Linked DNA regions of Homo sapiens. The protein of the gene in region 2 purifies or fractionates together with the protein of the main gene of each other region. This does not show direct contact. Each region holds a gene or a part of one and is shown on either strand. Other genes may lie near its edges.

What was found. Proteins that work in one complex are often made in the same cells at the same time.
Region 1: the proteins of TRIB2 (region 2) and STK40 purify together in Homo sapiens (affinity purification with mass spectrometry; 3 studies listed by BioGRID and IntAct, with this or other methods). This does not show direct contact.

Annotation. Positions count from the first base shown.
Region 1 is NC_000001.11:36,358,425-36,361,924, forward strand, and holds part of STK40 (serine/threonine-protein kinase 40), read right to left. Parts: intron 2,917-3,500; 5' UTR 2,909-2,916; coding exon 2,797-2,908; intron 414-2,796; coding exon of another isoform or gene 399-413; coding exon 313-398; intron 1-312. UniProt on the Homo sapiens protein: May be a negative regulator of NF-kappa-B and p53-mediated gene transcription.
Region 2 is NC_000002.12:12,723,436-12,726,935, reverse strand, and holds part of TRIB2 (tribbles homolog 2), read right to left. Parts: coding exon 3,384-3,500; intron 1-3,383.

The DNA of each region.
Region 1 (3,500 bases), on a different chromosome or scaffold from region 2:
ACTTTACACAGCAGAACAACCAGAACGGGGGAAGCAGGGGGCTTTTTACCACATGACATTTGTGCACAATGCACACACAAACACACCAAGTGAAATCGTTTTTCTTAATATGATGGTGATGTAATTTATGCACAGACAAAACTCTTTAAATCAGAAGTTGTTCTGAGGGAGACTGTGAACTTGATTGCTTCTCGGGAAGAAATGGCGCTACTCTTGTTCACAATGACGCAGGTGTGAAGGTGGAGGAGGGAGGAGTGGGTTGGCATGACAGGCCCTGTTCCTGAGGCACCCTCACCCCCATGTCTCACTTACCTTCAGCTGATAGAAGTCATCCGTGCCATCTTTCCTCGCCAAACACTGCACTATGCTTGGCACCGGTGAGTTGCCCAGACGGGGACCTACGGCACAGAGAGCTGCTGGTCTACTTTTCAGAAGCCCTGGCTGTCACGACGCCAGGTCACCACGTGGTCTTTTACTAGACCTTCTATTCAGGAGGGCACCATAGCTCATGTGTACTGGACTGACCCTCCAAGGTCTCCTGGTGGAGAGTTTTCAAGGTCTCCCCTCCAAAAATAGAGGGGTATGTGTGCTCTGCCTGGAGCACATCCAGCTTTTGCAAACACATTTCCCAAAGAGAGGTTTTCAACCCTGGGTGCACGCTGGAATGTCTAGTGAGCATCTATTAAAAACAAGAGATCCAGGCTGGGTGTGGTGGCTCACACCTGTAATCCCAACACTTTGGGAGGCTGAGGTGGGAGGACTGCTTGAGCCCAGGAGTTTGAGACCAGCCTGGGCAACACAGTGAGACTTCTTCTCTACAAAAAATAAAATATTGGCTGAGCATGGTGGAGCATACCTGTAGACCCAGCTACTTGGAAGGCTGAGGTGGGAGGATCGTTTGAGCCCAGGAGGCTGAGGCTGCAGTGAACTGTGTTTGTGCCACTGCACTCCAGCCAGGGCAACAGAACAAAGCCCTGCCTCAAAAAAATCAACAAAACCCAAGAGATCCTGGATCCCCTGAAGAGCAACTTCAGGGTGAGGATCCAGGAAACTAGAGCCGCAACAGGTTCCCTGGAGATTCTGATACAGCCATCTGGCCCCTGTCCAAGTGCCAGCTTTGGGGACTTTCTGTACTTCTGGAGATGCACAGTGCTCACTGTCCCGTGACAGCACCTTGCCCAAGCTTTGAGAGTGGAAATCTGATGTCACAGTGCCACTGCTGCGTGAAAAACTCTTAACGAAGCTCCGCTGCTCTTGGTTTTCCTTTTTACCAGTGCAATGTTCACAGACCCACTGCTCTTAACATACCACCCAAACTCCTTTGTCTGGCCCCCAAGGCCTTGCATGATTCAGTTCCCGCCCACCTTTCTAACAGGATGTTCCATTCCCTGTCCCATGCCACACTCCAGCTCCTAATGTTGGGCTCCTAGTTCCCAACATGGTAAGCCCTTTCCTGCTGCTGGGCCTCTGCAGTGCTGTTTCTTCTGTCTGCAATGTTCTTCCCCAGCTTTCCCCACAGTTGCTGCTTCTCCTCCTCAGGTGTCAGCTCATATGGTGTTTCCTCATAAACAGGCCTTTCTTGCCTGCCCTACCTACGGGCCCTTCTCATCTCACGTCATCGTGGAACTTCCTTCAAGGCACTTGCACCACCGGTGATGACTGGTGAGTTGTTTACTCTGTTTCTCTGTGAGGGCAGGAACTTGTCTTATTCACTGCTGCATGCCTGGCAAACAGCACAGGCCTGGCAAACAGCACAGGCCTGGCACGTAGTAGGTACACACCATTAAGTATGTACTGAATGACTGGAGCTGGAACTATCCTGAGCCTGTAAGTCCAAAATGCTGTCCCAAAGTAAAACTCACGCCCAGTCTCTGGCTGCAACCCTGACTATAAGCAATTTGGACTGCTGGTCCTTATGCATCATGCAGAAATGCTTTGCTGCTCCTCTGGCCAACTGCCAACACCTGTGCCAGGATTTCTGTGCCAATTTAAATAAATTTGGGGGGCTATACAAAATGCTTTGTGAAATTATGCCATCCAAGAATGGCATAAAGCAGTGCCTTGGATGATAGATCTTGGGTTTTCATTTTATTTTATTTTATTTTATTTTATTTTATTTTATTTTTTTAGAGAGAGAGTCTCGCACCGTTGCCTAGGCTGGAATGCAGTGGCGTGATCACGACTCACTGTAACCTCAAACTCCTGGGCTCAAGTAATCCTCCTGCCTCAGCCTCCCAAGTAGCTAGGACTACAGGCATGTGACACCACACCCAATTAATTTTTATATTTTTCTAGTAGAGATGGGATCTCACTATGTTGCCCAAGCTTGCAAAGTCTTGAACTCTTAGCCACAAGTGATCCTCTCACCTCAGCCTCGAAAAGTGCTGGGATTACATAAGTGAGCTATTGCACCTGGCCAGAGCTTGGGTTCTAATGCAGCTAATGACTTCTAATGGGTGTGCTTCCTGTGAGCACGTCACCATTCTAGGGGCACACATAGGATTCTCTGGGGGGAGAGTCGGAGCCTAGCTATTGGCTAAGGCTGATCTAAGGCTGGTATGGCTAAAACACTGACAGCCCCTGGTACAGAGTGACCCAAGGCTTGGGTCTTCCACTGATATAAACATATTCTGTTTCAAGTAGTGAAGCTAGGGACCAAGCCTGGGGCAGGGCAGGACCACACACTGCTGTGGGTGGGCCACCTCACTCTGATGTCTGTAGGTCAGATCATGCGAGCCAATGTGCCCTGCCCCTGCCTCCCAGCCCACCCATTTTTCCCAAAGGTCAGAGGCTTACCAAGGATGAATGGTCCAGCTCTCTTTGCATTATTTCCAGAAATCCCACTTCCTAGAGCCTTGGCCCTGGCCGACGTTTCCCCAGCTCCTCTGTCTGATGCTCTCCGCTTCATTCTCAGCTCTAGACAAGACAGAAAGACCCCTTCTCACTGAGTAAGTCAGCGAGTTTCCTTATGCTAACCCAGCCTGCAGGCCTTTGACTTGGGATGCATCACACAGCTGCCGCTGCTGCCTCCAACTCCTCCTGCTACCAGGGGAGCATCCAAGGCTCCAAGTGACAAAGAACCACAGCTCCTTTACTTGGGATTAATTAGATGCTAAAGGTGGACATCCTTTAAGGCAGCATATACAGGGTACAGAGGCGGGGAGCCAACACACCACCACCAAGTGGCCAGTTAAATTCAGAGAGGAGAAAACTGGGCTTTGTGCAGATGCTAATGCCAAACAGAGCCCCAAGAGACTACCACAGAGACAGAGAGGAGAGCCAGCCCCATCCAGCTGAACCCCAGCCCTGAGGTGAGCAACTGTTCCCAAAGTGAGACCTGCCCTCCAAATACCTACAGCCTAATGACCCGAGGTGCCCATTCCTGGCCCGTATCTGGACAGTGGGCCCCAGGAATGGGATGCTTGTTACACGAGGCCTGGGGGCTTCTTATGCCCACGGAGTTTGATGACTACAGCCCTGAGAACCCCTCTCCCCATCTT
Region 2 (3,500 bases):
TGGATGGCCATGGATGCAGAGTCCCAGATGGCACACAATCGAAACTTTAGGCACAAGGAGTCAGCCCATAGGCAGGTCTTCTTCTGCACCAGGTGGGCCTCAGCCAATTTCACACGTAAAGCCTGCACTTTCGATTGCTTTCCAGATCACCAGAGTTCAAGAAGCACATCACTGAGAAGAAGACTGATGCGCAAAAGAGGTGTGTGATGGTCAGAAGATGAATAAAGCAGCACTTCCCAAATTTGCTTCTTTGCTTTTTCACCGTGGGACCAATGCCCAAAAGGTGAGAAAACAGACATTAACTCTGTGGTTTAGCTTTCCAAAAGCCTTTAAAATTTAACCCATTGCTTCCTTACACTTTCGATGTTGTTGAGGGAGAAGGAAGCTTTAGCTCCACTAAAAGTGATGCAATTAGGGTGGAAGATGAGAGTTCCCAGCAGCAAGCATGGAGCCAATGAGGTCCTGGGCCCCTGACACTTGGCCTCACACTCTTCCCTCAGGAAGTGCTGGCAATGTGCTCCATGTAGGCCACCATGCAGGCCAAATAAAAGAGAATCTGCCATGAAACTCAATGCTGCCAGGAGGCAGAGAAGGAGAAATACATTGTGGAACAAAAAGCAGAAGTTTCACATTCTGGAATCGAGAGGTTAAAATACAAAACAACAAGAAGAAAAAGGTGACTAGGCATGATTCCCCTTTCACAAAAAGTTGATAGTTGGATTTTAGAAAAACAAAAAAGCTCTTTATCAATCAGCTACTGCTGAGAACATTCAAAATGTCCTTGAAAACAGAGGTGACCTTCTCAGAGCTGCCCAGACAGACACTTGTCATGTTCCTGAAAAGCAAGCCCACTGGGACCTCCATGTGACTTGGGCTGGAAGAAGAGCTCTCGATGGAATGACAGGATTTCCAGGCTGGCTGCACCCTCAGACTGGCTGTGTAACATTAAGCCAGCTAGGTGACCCTGCCATGAGGCCAAGTAACCTCACTGATCAGATGGAGGAGTTCTCATTTTCTCCAAGGTCCTACAGGGCATCAGCCTCAAGGCTGGCCCCTGGGGCAACACGGCTGCATGGCCAAAGGGGCTATCACACATGCCACCATGCTGTAGGGACTATATAGGCCAGCTCCCTACAGTCCTTTACATTCTCTTTTTACCTTGGAAAATGCTCTTGAAAATGAAAAAGGATTTTGCTTTGACATGTTTACTCCAGGCAATTGTTTCGGTTTCACATTCACACTGGATACTCCTTTCTGGTTATCTCTGGACAGGGTCATGCTCTTTCGCGAAAGTCAAACGTAACTTCCAGACGGAATGTCAGAGGCACACACTCCTGAGGTTGGAAGCTTCTTCCCTGGATCCTGGGACATCAAGGATTTTGGCGTGTGATGACACACTCATAAAGGAGAAGCAAAGGCTGGGTGGGAGTAAAAGCCCTCCACAGCCCAGGTGAGGCCTGGCTGTGCTTCACTGGCTCCTAGCTAGCTGTGTGCACTGGGGCGTGCTCTCACCTCTGGAGTTCTGCCTCCTGGCAGCAAACCAAGAGAGTGCCACACAGACTATGCAACCTCCGGGTCCACTTTTGTTCCCATGTTCTATGACTTGGGGACCTCCACCCTGCTCTACTCATTTGCACAAACATGTATTCACTATGGGGGTCCTATCCCTGAATAGGCCATTCCTTCTACTCGTTGGTGCCCGAGAGTTCCTCCCTATGGAAACACAATCAAAGACGACACTTAAAAACACAGATCCCTGCGAGAGAGGGCATTTGCTGTCCCCATGCCCTCTGGCAGACAAATGAATTTCTTGAGAGCTGACTTACTAGTGAATGTGGCCTTACTTCTGCTCTTTCCTGTCCGTAACTTTGGGACTTCACCACGTTGCACTTTGGAGCTCTCGTCTATACAATGGACATGATGACATTCACTTCAATAGGGAGAGAGAATTAAACTTTAACCTTATGGTAAGAGGTAAACAAATATGACCTCTTATTTTTGTAGGTGCAGTTATTAAATCTCCAAGAAAGGTGGAACATACAAGGGTAGAGAGAATACCTTTGTCAGTATCGTTGGGGGTCAACATATATTCATCTTCTAAATGAGAATATTCAAAGAAGCACATACACCAATTTATTATTAATTGAAAAGACCTTAGAGCCAATACAGCATACAGAAGGTAACAGAAGGAGAAATATGAGGCTGGTAGGGGGAGGGTGGAAACAGACGAAGGACCAATCCAAGATCACAGAGGGTATCGAAGGCAAAACCAGGGGAAACATCTCCAGGCTCCAGGGGCAGAGGCATCTGAGCGGAAGAGAAAAGGTAAATGTGGTTCCACACTCTAAATCTTCCAACAGCTGCCCCTTCTCAGTTTGTTAATAAAGGTAAAGGCATTCACAAGCAAAGATCAAGATATGAGCTGGTCTCCACATTATGTGGGGCCTCATTCAGGAACTACGGTGAGCAATGAATACAGATTTGTTGCCTCTGTCCCTCTAAACTCATATTCTTAAAAAGAACAAAAAGGGCTTGAAGGAGTTCTTGTAATCAAAATCGGCTGGGAGAGAAAGCAGGGCCCCAGCAGAGTCTGCTAAATAGAAGGTAATGAGTTAACGGCATAAGCCAGTTGCCTGCATCCTGTCCAGCTGTCTCCTCCAATAACCAAGACCTCTGCACTGCCATGCATTTGCATCAGCAGTTTCCTCACCTGGAATGCGGTCTTTCCCACATTTCCTGAAATCCAGTCATCTTTCGAGTCTTGGCTCCAAAATCACCCCTCCTGTAAAACCTTCCTTGACTCTCCAAGTCCTAGGGAGAACTGACATGTCCCCACCACCCCAGTTCTCATCCCACCCAGCACGGACCTCTATTCTGAGCTGGTAGCATTTCCTTTATAGGTCCGTTGGCTATCTAATTCATCTAGATATTAATAGTACTGAGAATTGTGACTAATACCTAATATAAGCTTAGGTAAGAGCTACTGAATGAGTGCATGGATGAATGAATTATAAATGACTGATTCTGGCTGCTGAGTGTTCTGCGGGTAGAATTTTCAAGGCCCTGCCTTTACTGGCATTGAAAATGTCAAAGAGGTTTGCAGCCACCTTCGGAATTCAAGACACCTAATCATACATATTCATTGGGTCACAGAATATCCTGGTACCTGTCCTTTGAGCACCAGATGACACCTTTAGAATAGTAGCTATTTGTTTTCCCAAACACTTGAAAATTGCAATATTCACTTCCTTTTGCCCTCCTAAGATTCCTTCCCCTCATCTGGACCACAGACGGCAAAAAAACGTCCATTCAAGACTTTTCTAGGAAGCTGTTGTTAGGAGCAGTCCATCACAGTACCCAGGTCTGGACAGGATGAGACCTACCTCTCTTCGTCCTTAAAGATGAATTTCCGCAGCTTGAGGTCCCGCAGCACCAGCCCCCCGTCATGGCAGTGGGCCACTGCCGAGGCAATCTGGTAGAACAGTCTGGCTGCCTCCTCC